4 linked regions of the Homo sapiens genome follow. The protein of the gene in region 2 purifies or fractionates together with the protein of the main gene of each other region. This does not show direct contact. Each region holds a gene or a part of one and is shown on either strand. Other genes may lie near its edges.

Region 1 (3,500 bases), on a different chromosome or scaffold from region 2:
TGAGAATTCTTTACCTGTTCTGGGTATCAATTTTTTTGTTAAATATTGTAAATGTTTTTGTTGTATTATTGTGTGGTAGTTTTCCTGTTAATTGTAAATGTTTCTCCTGTTTTCTGTTACTATTTGTTTTCACTGTTAATATTTTAATTAGTGATAAATACAAAGTAATATTCTAGGTGACAAATCTTTTTAAAAAGTATTTTAAAATAACTTTACCATTTTTGGAAACCAGGGTTTATTATATTTAAATTTTGAGAATTTTTTCTGGTGTCTTATGTACTAAATTAATGTGGTCAAAAAATATTTACTGGGCCCAACTATGTGCCACCTCTGCTCTGAGCACTGGGAATATAATGTTTGATTGTGCATTTTGCAAGTAACTGAGAGCTAGGAAAACAGTTATATGTTTTATTTTTTTATTTTTATTATTATTATTATTATTTTGAGACAGAGTCTCTCTCTGTCGCCCAGGCTGGAGTGCGGTGGCGCAATCTTGGCTCACTGCAAGCTCTGCTTCCCAGGTTCACAGCATACTCCTGCCTCAGCCTCCTGAGTAGCTGGGACTACAGGCGCCCGCCACCACGCCTGGCTAATTTTTTGTATTTTTTTTAGTAGAGACAGGGTTTCACCCTGTCGGCCAGGATGGTCTCGATCTCTTGACCTCATGATCTGCTCACCTCGGCCTCCCAAAGTGCTGGGATTACAGGCGTGACCCACCGCGCCTGGCCTGTTTTTTTTTTTGTTTTTTTTGTTTTTTTGAGACAGAGTCTCTCTCGGTTTCCCAGGCTGGAGTGCAGTGATGCGCGCTTACTGCAACCTCTGCCTCCTGAGCTCAAGCGATTCTCCTGCCTCAGCCTTCTGAGTAGCTGGGATTACAGGCGCATGCCACCACACCTGGCTAATTTTTGTATTTTTAGTAGAGACGGGGTTTCACCATGTTGGTCAGGCTTGTTTCGAGCTCCTGACCTTGTGATCCTCCCGCTTCGGTCTCCCAAAGTGCTAGGATGACAGGCATGAGCCACTTCGTCCAGCCAACAGTTCTGTTAAATACACATAACATACAATGGCCAAGTTGTTTGCGTTTGTGTTTGCGTTTTTGTTTTTTCAATTTTTCAATTTTTTTTTTTTCTTTGGAAATGGGGTCTTGCTCTGTCACCCAGGCTGGAGTGCAGTGGCGCAGTCTCTGCTCACTGCAAGCTCCTCCTCCCAGGTTCACACCATTCTCCTGCCTCAGCCTCCTGAGTAGCTGGGACTATAGGAGCCCACCACCACGCCTGGCTAATTTTTTTTGTATTTTTAGTAGAGACGGGGTTTCACCGTGTTAGCCAAGATGGTCTCGATCTCCTGACCTCGTGATTCGCGTACCTCGGCGTCCCAAAGTGCTGGGATTATAGGCGTGAGCCACCACGCCCGGCCCTGTTTTTCAATTTTTTAATAAAATCAAGAGAGGGTCTCGCTATGTTGCCCAGGCTGGTCTTGAACTTCTGGGCTCAAGCAATCCTCCTGCCTCAGTCTCCCAAAGTGCTGGGACTACAGGCATGAACCACCATACCTGGCCTCCAAGTTTGTTTACATGAAAACAGAATGACTACTTTTTTTTTTTTAATTGAGACAGAGTCTCGCTCTGTCGCCCAGGCTGGAGTGCAGTGACGCGATCTCGTCTCACTGCAACCTCAACCACTTGGGTTCAAGCGATTCTTGTGTCTCAGTCTCCTGAGTAGCTGGGACTACAGGCACGCACCACCACGCCCAGCTAATTCTTTTGCATTTTTAGTAGACAGAGTTTTGCCATGTTGGCCAAGCTGGTCTTGAACTCCTAACCTGAAGTAAGCCGCCTGCCTCGGCCTCCCAAAGTGCTGGGATTACAGGTGTGAGCCACTGTGCCTGGCCACATACTTCTTATAAAACTCTTAAGGTAGCCACATTTTTTTTCCAGTGAACGTGGTTTAAATAAAATGTGAGACACTCCCATTACTTTAATGGAATAGAGTTATATCAACTTTTTATTTTTATTTATTTGTTTATTTATTTATTTTTGAGACAGAGTCTCTCTCACTGTGTTGGCCAGATTGGAGTGCATCGGCATGATCACAGCACAATCATAGCTTGGTGCAGCCTCAACCTCAGCCACCCAAGTAGCTGGGAACAAAGGTGCACGCCACCATGCCTGGCTTTTTTTTTTTTTTTTTTGCAGAGACTAGGTCTCACTATGTTGCCCAGGCTAGTCTGCAACTCCTGGGCTCAAGCAGTCCTCTCACCTTGGCCTCCCAAAGTGTTGGGGTTATAGGCTTGAGCCACTGTGCCTGGCTTGAATTCTTTAATCTATCTAAAGTTTCTTTTTGTGACTATTGGTAAGGGGGAGATTTTTTCCAAATAATTAGCTAGTTGTTTCAAACATTTTGAATAGTTTATCCTTATTTTACTGATAGGAAGTGCCAACTTTCACAAACACTAAATTTGCTTGTATCTGTTTCCAGGTACTATTTTGTTCCTGTTTAGTAACTTATTTTAACAATTAGAACTTTTGCTATCCTGTTTGGCAGGAGCCTCCTCTTCGTTCTTTTTTTTTTTTTTTTTTTTTTTTTTTGAGACAGAGTCTCACTCTGTCATCCGGGCTGGAGTGCAGTGGCACAATTTCAACTCACTGCAACCTCCCCCTCCCAGCTTCAAGCGATTCTCGTGCTTCAGCCTCCCAAGTAGCTGGGATTACAGGTATGCACCACCATCCTGGCTAATTTTTATATTTTTGGTAGAGACAGGGTCTTGCCATGTTGGTCAGGCTGGTCTCGAACTCCTGTCCTCAAGTGATCCACTCGCCTTGGCCTCCCAAAGTCCTGGGGTTACAGGTGTGAGCCACCACGCATGCCTGTCTTTGTTCTTTTTCCATATTGCCTTGGCTCTTCCTTCAAATCTTTTCTCCTTGACTAGCTTTAGAATCACAAGGGTTCCAGCTCCACCCCTGCTTCTTTCTTTTTTTTTTTGTTTGTTTTTTGGAGACGGAGTCTCACTCTGTCACCCAGGCTGGAGTGCAATGGCATGATCCCAGCTTGCTGCAACCTCTGCTTCCCGGGTTCAAGCAATTCTCCTGCCTCAGCCTTCCAAGTAGCTGGGATTACAGGCACATGCCACCACGCCCAGCTAATTTTGTATTTTTAATACAGACAGGGTTTTACCATATTGGCCAGGCTTATCTTGAAGTCCCCACCTCAGGTGATCCACCCACCTCGGCTTCCCAAAGTGCTGGGATTACAGGCGCATGCCACCATGCCCAGCTAATTTTGTATTTTTAGTAGAGACGGGGTTTTACCATGTTGGCCAGGCTCATCTCGAACTCCCCCACCTGAGGTGATCCACCCACCTCAGCCTCCCAAAGTTCTGGGATTACAGGCGTGAGCCACCGCGTCCGGCCTCCCTGCTTCTTTATTTAGTCCACTGACTCCTTGCCTGAAGCCTCTGCTTTCTTTGGTGCCAGGCCCCACTGGCCTGGCTCACCCTCTGGT
Region 2 (2,975 bases):
GACGTGTGGACAAGAATGCGCCCACGGTCTGTGGCCACACAGCCCCTGTGCTAGACATCGCCTGGTGCCCGCACAATGACAACGTCATTGCCAGTGGCTCCGAGGACTGCACAGTCATGGTGAGTGGTGGTGGGGACCCAGGGGCTGGGAGAGGGGCTCTAGGATGGGATCTGACATTTGGAGTCCTGAAGACTCACTGGCCCCTCCTCTGCAGGTGTGGGAGATCCCAGATGGGGGCCTGATGCTGCCCCTGCGGGAGCCCGTCGTCACCCTGGAGGGCCACACCAAGCGTGTGGGCATTGTGGCCTGGCACACCACAGCCCAGAACGTGCTGCTCAGTGCAGGTGCTGCGGGAGGAGGGGCTTGGGGGTGGCTCGTGGCCTGCAGTGGATGAGGGCAGGAGGCTCATGGCTTCTGACACTGTGGGGAACGTGCAGGTTGTGACAACGTGATCATGGTGTGGGACGTGGGCACTGGGGCGGCCATGCTGACACTGGGCCCAGAGGTGCACCCAGACACGATCTACAGTGTGGACTGGAGCCGAGATGGAGGCCTCATTTGTACCTCCTGCCGTGACAAGCGCGTGCGCATCATCGAGCCCCGCAAAGGCACTGTCGTAGCTGTGAGTCGCCATCTACCCTGACCTTTGACCCTACAGCCTTTATCCTTCTTATCCACCATCAGCCAGGCCCTTGGATGCTGCCCTCCCTCGCCTCCACCTGGGACTGGCCCCGTAGGGTATGTACGGGTGCCTGACCTACCACCTCCCTTTCCTTGCAGGAGAAGGACCGTCCCCACGAGGGGACCCGGCCCGTGCGTGCAGTGTTCGTGTCGGAGGGGAAGATCCTGACCACGGGCTTCAGCCGCATGAGTGAGCGGCAGGTGGCGCTGTGGGACACAGTGAGTGCTGGGGCAGGAAGCCGAGGGCCCCCAGGCTGGGAACCAAGACTGGAGGTTTCGTCCCTGCTCTGCCACTCACCTGGCAGGATGGCCATGGGCCTCAGTTTACCCAGGCGTGAGATGGTTGTTCCCACTGGTTGGTCGGGAGGGCCCTCACAGGTCACTGCCCAGGGAAGACCACCATCCCAGGGCCTGGGATGTTACCTCTCACCTGTGTCTACAGAAGCACCTGGAGGAGCCGCTGTCCCTGCAGGAGCTGGACACCAGCAGCGGTGTCCTGCTGCCCTTCTTTGACCCTGACACCAACATCGTCTACCTCTGTGGCAAGGTGGCCTCGTCGGGCGGGGTGGGGGTGGGAGGTGGGCAGGATGGGCCTGGAGAGGGCCAGGGCAGTGGGCATCCGCTGGTATTGACCCTCCCTCCACACCTGCCACCTACAGGGTGACAGCTCAATCCGGTACTTTGAGATCACTTCCGAGGCCCCTTTCCTGCACTATCTCTCCATGTTCAGTTCCAAGGAGTCCCAGCGGGGCATGGGCTACATGCCCAAACGTGGCCTGGAGGTGAACAAGTGTGAGATCGCCAGGTGACTGACCCCCGGCCCTGACCGCAGCATGCTCCTTGGGCAGTGGGCAGTCCCAAGCCCACCCAACCAGACTGTGGGCCCCGCTCACCTTCCCCTTCCCACAGGTTCTACAAGCTGCACGAGCGGAGGTGTGAGCCCATTGCCATGACAGTGCCTCGAAAGGTGATGCTCCCCCGCCCCACCCTGGGCTCCAGGCTGGGCACTGACTTTGCGGTCTTGTGGGGGGTGTCCTGGCATAAGCGCTTTCCTCACTATCCCTGGCCTTGCCCACAGTCGGACCTGTTCCAGGAGGACCTGTACCCACCCACCGCAGGGCCCGACCCTGCCCTCACGGCTGAGGAGTGGCTGGGGGGTCGGGATGCTGGGCCCCTCCTCATCTCCCTCAAGGATGGCTACGTACCCCCAAAGAGCCGGGAGCTGAGGGTCAACCGGGGCCTGGACACCGGGCGCAGGAGGGCAGCACCAGAGGCCAGTGGCACTCCCAGCTCGGTGAGAGGGCTGGGAAGCCAGGGAATAAAACTGGGAGGGTGGGGTGGGGCTGGTGTTTGGGGCACCTCAAACTCACAACATTGGGAATCTTTGTGGGTCCGGGAATGGTAATCCTGAGGCCTCAGAACACAGGTTTCAGATTGATAGGCCTGCAGGTCTCCAGGCAGCAACCAGCTGAGCGACTAAAGGGCCCAAGGCCAGGGCTCTAGGGATGGGGCTCAGCAGAGGCTGGGGTAAGGGGAGCCAGGGAGGAGCTGGGCCTAATGCAGCACCGGGTCCCCAGGATGCCGTGTCTCGGCTGGAGGAGGAGATGCGGAAGCTCCAGGCCACGGTGCAGGAGCTCCAGAAGCGCTTGGACAGGCTGGAGGAGACAGTCCAGGCCAAGTAGAGCCCCGCAGGGCCTCCAGCAGGGTCAGCCATTCACACCCATCCACTCACCTCCCATTCCCAGCCACATGGCAGAGAAAAAAATCATAATAAAATGGCTTTATTTTCTGGTACCTCCCAGACTCTGATGACTGGTCCCCTAGACACGCAGTTTGCTGAACCAACCAGCCCTAGAGCTTCCCCTCCACCGCGCTGAGGGGACTGACCCATGGCAGGGGATGTGGGATGCCCCCTGACTTACTACATCACAGGAACAGGGCCTTCGTGGGTAGAAACCAGCCATGCTGATGTGGGCCAGGAGGCTGCTCTCCGTTTCCGAGCTCCTTCTCAGAGCTGACACAGCTGAACTATTTAAGGCCCTAGCTTAGAACCTCAATAATTCCCAAATTTACCAAAAATCTGCCTTTCCTAGTCAACCAAAACATCACGTTGCACGTGACTCTGCTGGCACTGTTGCTTGTGAGGAAATGAACCAACCATCACTTACAGGGTAGGCATCTTTTAAACTGCAGGTCCAAAGATAAAAATAACGAGGGAGGCTGGGCATGGGGACTCACGTCTATAATCCCAGCACTGTGGGAGGCTGAGGCGGCAGGATCATTTGAGCCCAGGA
Region 3 (3,500 bases), on a different chromosome or scaffold from region 2:
GCCTACTGTTAGATTTCAGTCTTGTTTTGACACTTGATTATTTTTTCCTTAGCAAAAGAATACATGCTTATTTTAATAACTTACATGATACAGACATATATAAAGAAAAAAGTATAGTTCCCTTTGCTCCCTACCTATCCCCCAACAGTTCAGTGTAGATTCTTTGATACCTTTTGATCTACTAAGTCTCTTTTGTATACCTTTTGGCTTTGTGTATAGAATATTGTATAACACAAGTTTTAAATTTTCATGTGGTCAGATCTTTTCTCCCCCACCTTTTGGCATCTGGATTTCTTTCTTGCTTTCCATTTTTACAATTCTTTTAATAGATGCTTATTTTCTTTTATATAGAAAAAAATACCAGTCATAAAATGGAAAATACATTTAGAATCTTGAAACCATTTGACCCTATTTTACTTATACCTTATAATCTGCATCTGTGAATTATTCATTAAGATTAAAGACTTTTGTATGTTTTATGTCTCTTTAACATGGTGACACATCAAGAATTAGTAAGCTGTGTGGGCTGGACTACTGCTGAAGAGCTGTATTCATGTAGTGATGATCACCAGATAGTGAAGTGGAACTTGTTAACCAGTGAAACAACTCAAATAGTAAAGCTTCCTGATGATATTTACCCTATTGATTTTCACTGGTTTCCAAAAAGTTTGGGTGTAAAGAAACAAACCCAGGCAGAAAGCTTTGTCCTCACAAGTTCTGATGGTAAGTTTTAAATAAACATTATATGCTCGCCATTGTATTTAAAAGACTTAATAGTATGATTTATGCTTTGAGTTGTTTTACAAAACTGGTATTTGTGGATCTGCATATTTTTATCCACATATTGTATTTCTTTTCTGAATAGTCACTTGGTTTGTGTATGGGCTATGAAATTATTGTCATGGAAGAAAGTTAGTTTAACTGGCATATACTAGGATTGAATATGGGTCTTTGGCTTTAATATATATATATATATATATATATATTTAGAGATGGGGTCTCACTCTGTTGCCCAGGCCAGAGTGCAGTGGTGTGATCATAGCTCACTGTAGCTTCAAACTCCTGGGCTCACACAATCTTCCTGCCTCAGCCTCTTGAGTAGCTGGGACTACAGGCACACACTATTACATCTGGTTAATTAAAACATTTTTTTTGTAGAGACAGGGTCTCATCTTGTTGCCCAGGCTAGTCTTGTACTCCTGGCCTCAAGCAATCTTCCTTCCTTGGCCTCCCAAAGTGCTGGGATTACAGGTATGAGCCACCATGCCCAGCTGGCTTTACTTTTTTAGTACTCTTATGAGTTGAGTTAAGCTGTTATCATAGTTTTAGTTCCTAAATTCTTCAAATTTAACTTAATATAACCACACTGAAAAGATATACCTATTCATTTAGTAAGGTATCTGTTAAAATACATACTTTATTTTCCAGTACATGTTAATTTTCAGTTACAGAGTTGAAGAGTTTTATAATTTGACCGCAGCTTTCTTATTGGTGAATAACAAGTATGATTTTTTTTTTCACTTTTTAAGGGTATGTTTTTATATTTGTTTTCTTAGAAATACGTGAACTGTTTTCATCTGTGTTATACTTTACCTGCTGTTTCAATTAGGAGTACATTGATTGAAAGTAACAGAAACTTATTTGGCTAACTTAAGCACAAATGGAGTTTTTTGGTTCACCTAGCTGTAGGGGTAGATCAAGCACTAGTTGCATCGGGTCCCTGTTCTCACCATCTCTTGGGTAGACTCTCTGCACATGGTGAACATGATGGTGAGTATGACGGTGGCCAGTAGCCCAAGGCTCATCATACTTTGTAAGACTGCTTCTTCCTCAGTATCTCGTGCAGGCAGCTTGCAGAGGGACCCTTAATGAGCTTGGGTCATATGCCCATCACTGAGTCAATCAGTTTAGTCAAGAGAAATGGACTTTGGGAGGCTGAGGTGGGCGCATCATTTGAGGTCAGGAGTTCGAGACCAGCCTGAGCAACATGATGAAACCCCCGTCTGTACTGAAATACAAAAAAATTTTAGCTAGGCATGGTGGCACATGCCTATAGTCCCAGCTACTTGGGAGGCTGAGATAGGAGAATTGCTTGAACCTGGAATGCAGAGGTTTCAGTGAGCTGAGATTGCGCCATTGCACTCTATCCTGGGCACAGAGCAAGACTCCGTCTCAAAAAAAAAAAAAAAGAAAAAAAGACAATGGGACACTGATTGAGCGTATCCAGCCTCAGGCCATCCACATGCAAAGGAAAAGAGAAAGAGAAGAGGGCTTTTGTAACCTGAAGATGGAAAGGATGTTAGGACAAACAGTAGTATCAGATTACACCTTATTTACCGAGAGACTTGTGGTAGTTTTTTAAAACTTTGTTTTTCAGAAACTTGATTAAATGAGATACATGTGTAAAATCACTTGGTAGAGTGCCTGGCACTTAGAAGATTGGCCCTGAACCACAGCTAGAATTTAGTTTACCTCAGGTGATAAAGGGAGTGTTTGACTTAAACAATTATTTTGATATAATTTTGCATTTACAGAAAAGTTTTAAGAATTGTACAAACAATTCCTGCATGTCCTTTATCCAGATTCACTAGTTTAACATTTTGTCCCATATATGTTGGGACAAAGTATTGGCTCTGTTTCTTTTTACACAAACCCTCCTCGCCCCCAGCACACACCCTTTTTCTGAAAGATGTGAGAGCAGTTTGCAGACATGTACTTTTAACCATGAATACTTCAATGCATTTCCTAAGAATAAGAATTTTCTGTTACATTGCCACAATTTGTTGATAAAAATCAGGACATTTAACACTGATGCAATGCTATTATCTAATCTATAGTTTATATTTAAATTTTAACAATCATTCTAATTTTCCATAGAAGTTTATTTTTGCTGGTATAGGATAACATATTGTTTTTGTTGTGTCTCTTTAGCTTCCTTTAATCTGGAACAACTCTTCAGTCTTTTGTGATCTTGACAGTGTTGAAGAATATATGCCTGTTATTTTATAGTTCTTCAATTTGTTTTTGTCTGATGTTTCCTCATGATTAGATTCAATTTATATGTCCTTAGCAGGAATACTCGGGGCATCAGACTAGGAGATTTATGATGTTGGTTTGACCCATTATTGGTGATGTTAACCTTAATTATAAGTTAATAAGTTCATGTTCATTAAGTTAATCTCTGTAAAGTTACTATTTATTCCTTTTAATAATTTATGAAAAGATACTTTGAGACTATGTAAAAATATTATCTTCTTCATCAAACTGCCTCCCACTCTCTTAGCATCTATTGATGACTCTTGGCTGAGTCATTTATTACTAAGATAGTTTGCCAAATGGTGATTTTTCCAACTCCGTAATTTCTTCCATATTGATTAGTTGGTATTCTACTCCAAGGAAGAGCTTCCTGTCCCATGCCCATATATTTATTTGTTTTTTTGGGGTCAGATTAGACTTGTAGATTCTCATTTTATTTCATAAATATATTATTATTATCATTT
Region 4 (2,742 bases), on a different chromosome or scaffold from region 2:
AACCCCATCTCTACTAAAAAGACAAAAAAATTAGCCAGGCGTGGTGGTGGGCGCCTATAATTCCAGCTACTTGGGAGGCTGAAGCAGGAGAATTGCTTGAAGCCGGGAGGCGGAGGTTGCAGTGAGCCGAGATTGTGCCACTGCACTCCAGCCTAGGTGACAGAGCAAGACTCCGTCTCAAAAAAAAAAAAAAAAAGAAATACCTCTACTTCTTCTACTTCTGCAGGCCACATAAACCTTGGGCCTGAAGCTGTGGGGTCTAGAGTTTACCCCTTGGGGTAACATGATCAGATGGGCCTAATCCTCTCTTAGTACTCTTTGGGCAGATAGCTCTGACTACCCTCTCCTTCCTGCCCAGGATCTTCTCTCTCTGTCTCTGTTACAGAAACCAACAGGGCTGGCCCCCCAGAACTAGTGATGGGCCCTGGACAGTACACGGGACACCAACCAGTGGCAGAGTTGACTGGCTTGAGAGGTGACATGGAGGCAAGAGGAGGGCAAAGTGGGAAGAGGAGGACAGAGAGAGGTGCAGAAACTGGAGTTAGAGGAGTCCTACAGTGGCCGGAATGGTCTATGTGGGCAGGGAGGGGGTGAGTTCTACTCACATCGGCAAACTTGTGGTTTCGGAAGTGGGACTTGTTGCACTTGAGGAGCTGTACAGCCAGGTTGCAGTCCAGCCGGTACCGCTCCTACAGACACAGACCTGTTTCAGAGCCCAGCCCAGCCCTCTCCAAGGAAGCAGGGCCGAGCCAGGACAAAGCTAGCCCCAGGTGAGGAAGGCCCGAGTAGTGAAGCGCACATACATTGAGCTCTTCCAGCTTGTTGATGGTGTTCTTGGCATCCAGCAGCTTGTTGGTCAGCTCCACAATCTCCCAGTCCAGCGTCTTCCTATCCATCTCAGCCTTCTTGATCTGAAGCACAGACTTGAGGTTAACCCAGCCCACACTCTAGCCAGCCCTTCCTCTCCCTCCACCTCCTCCCATCCTGGAGACACAAGAGGCCACAGGTGCTAGGGCAGCCAAGGCGGACAGAGCAGAGACAAATGACGGACAGACAGAAGGAGACTGGGCATCTCTCCCGCTCTCTGGACTGGCTGTGGGGTGGGGGCTTTCTTAGCATGACTTCCTGCCACCTGGGCCCAGGACACAGGCAGTATAAGAGCTGTCCATCCCCTGAGGTTCCAGGGGCTCTGGGCACCAGGCAAGGCAGCTGGTACCTCAACGGCAGTAACTGCAAACCAGGGGGCTGAAGCCTCCTATGTGTGCAGCTGTTTCCAGCATCAGGCTAGGAGAGGGAAGAGGAAGCAGGGCGCGGTGGCAGCCAGGGCACCTTGTTGAGCAGGGAGCAAGCTGCAGGCTCAAAAGTAGCCTTCTGATCTCCAGTTCAGGGACTGGATCTGCAGCCTCCCCTCCCCACTCCCACAGCCTGGGCTTGCTGCCACTGGAGCCAAGAAGCTTTGGGTGTTCAGTGGAGACATCAATCAGTACCTCTACCAGAGCCAAGGGCAGAGCAGGCTAGGCTCCCCACCTCTCTCCTGGGAGGGAGGCATTGACAGTTAAACGGGCCTCATACAGGGAAGAGAAAGGAGCGGGTGTACTCAAGGGGCACAGGGTAACAGCCAGGGCCCACAATCCCAGATCTCAGCTGAGGAGAAGGCCAGGGCAAGGGAGAAGACACACAAACTCAGACGCAACTGCAAAAATCCAGCTGTGGCTAAGAGAGGCCTGAGAGGAGAGTGCAGCAGCAACGGTGGCAGCATGAGGGGGAGACGAGGAAAGAAGAGAAACAGTGTGAGCATTAAGACAGTCTTGACTTGCAGAGCACACTGCAGTACCCCCACCACTGCCCCATCCCACCATCTCCCTCAAGCCCCAGGGCAGAGTGGCATTCCCCTGGCAAATCCTGGCCCCCTGCTATGCTATGAGCACAGTGCCCACCAAGCTGCCCTCCCAGACAGATTACCAGTGTGTGCAGCTTGTCCTCCAACTCCTGGTTGGTCCGCTGGGAAGCCGTGTAGCTGTTCTGCAGCCTGAAAAGGGATAATACAAGGCACATCCCTGGGTCAAGATCCTGTTCTTCAGGCTCTGTTCAGCCTCCCCGATAGGGGATCTTGAACATGTCATTCTCCCTCAAGAACTTCAGTTTTCTAATAGGAATTAGATGATCTCTAAGGCATCTTCCAGCTAACCTCCTATGAAAGGAGAGAGAGAGAGAGAGAGAGAGAGAGAGAGAGAGTGTGTGTGTGTGTGTGTGTGTGTGTGTGTCCCCGCATTCCCACACCTGCAGAACTTATCCAGTTTTCTAATAAGAATTAGATGATCTCTAAGGCATCTTCCAGCTAACCTCCTATGAAAGGAGAGAGAGAGAGAGAGAGAGAGAGAGAGTGTGTGTGTGTGTGTGTGTGTGTGTGTGTGTGTGTGGCCCCGCATTCCCACACCTGCAGAACTTATCCAGTTTTTTAATAGGAATTAGATGATCTCTAAGGCATCTTCCAGCTAACCTCCTATGAAAGGAGAGAGACAGAGACACAGAGAGAGAGAGAGACAGAGAGAGTGTGTGTGTGTGTGTGTGTGTGTGTGTGTGTGTGTGTGTGTGTGTGTGTGTCTGGCCCCTCATTCCCACACCTGCGGAACTTATCCTTAAATTTGTCCAGCTCCTCGCGGCTCTGGCCCAGCTCCAGCTCCAGGCAGTCCTGCCCAATTTCCAGCTCACGTTCCAGGGCCTCAGTGCGTCTGGTGGCGG

Evidence for each region.
Region 1: the proteins of CORO1A (region 2) and VARS1 purify together in Homo sapiens (affinity purification with mass spectrometry; 4 studies listed by BioGRID and IntAct, with this or other methods). This does not show direct contact.
Region 3: the proteins of CORO1A (region 2) and IFT80 purify together in Homo sapiens (affinity purification with mass spectrometry; 3 studies listed by BioGRID and IntAct, with this or other methods). This does not show direct contact.
Region 4: the proteins of CORO1A (region 2) and TJAP1 purify together in Homo sapiens (affinity purification with mass spectrometry; 3 studies listed by BioGRID and IntAct, with this or other methods). This does not show direct contact.

Annotation. Positions count from the first base shown.
Region 1 is NC_000006.12:31,785,753-31,789,252, reverse strand, and holds part of VARS1 (valine--tRNA ligase), read left to right. Parts: intron 1-3,500. UniProt on the Homo sapiens protein: Catalyzes the attachment of valine to tRNA(Val).
Region 2 is NC_000016.10:30,186,602-30,189,576, forward strand, and holds the end of CORO1A (coronin-1A), read left to right. Parts: coding exon 1-119; intron 120-214; coding exon 215-344; intron 345-437; coding exon 438-622; intron 623-780; coding exon 781-900; intron 901-1,123; coding exon 1,124-1,228; intron 1,229-1,340; coding exon 1,341-1,486; intron 1,487-1,590; coding exon 1,591-1,648; intron 1,649-1,759; coding exon 1,760-1,975; intron 1,976-2,258; coding exon 2,259-2,363; 3' UTR 2,364-2,475; downstream 2,476-2,975. UniProt on the Homo sapiens protein: May be a crucial component of the cytoskeleton of highly motile cells, functioning both in the invagination of large pieces of plasma membrane, as well as in forming protrusions of the plasma membrane involved in cell locomotion.
Region 3 is NC_000003.12:160,378,726-160,382,225, reverse strand, and holds part of IFT80 (intraflagellar transport protein 80 homolog), read left to right. Parts: intron 1-501; coding exon 502-723; intron 724-3,500.
Region 4 is NC_000006.12:43,501,570-43,504,311, reverse strand, and holds part of TJAP1 (tight junction-associated protein 1), read right to left. Parts: coding exon 2,625-2,742; intron 2,030-2,624; coding exon 1,963-2,029; intron 1,725-1,962; coding exon 1,695-1,724; intron 912-1,694; coding exon 804-911; intron 690-803; coding exon 606-689; intron 1-605. UniProt on the Homo sapiens protein: Plays a role in regulating the structure of the Golgi apparatus.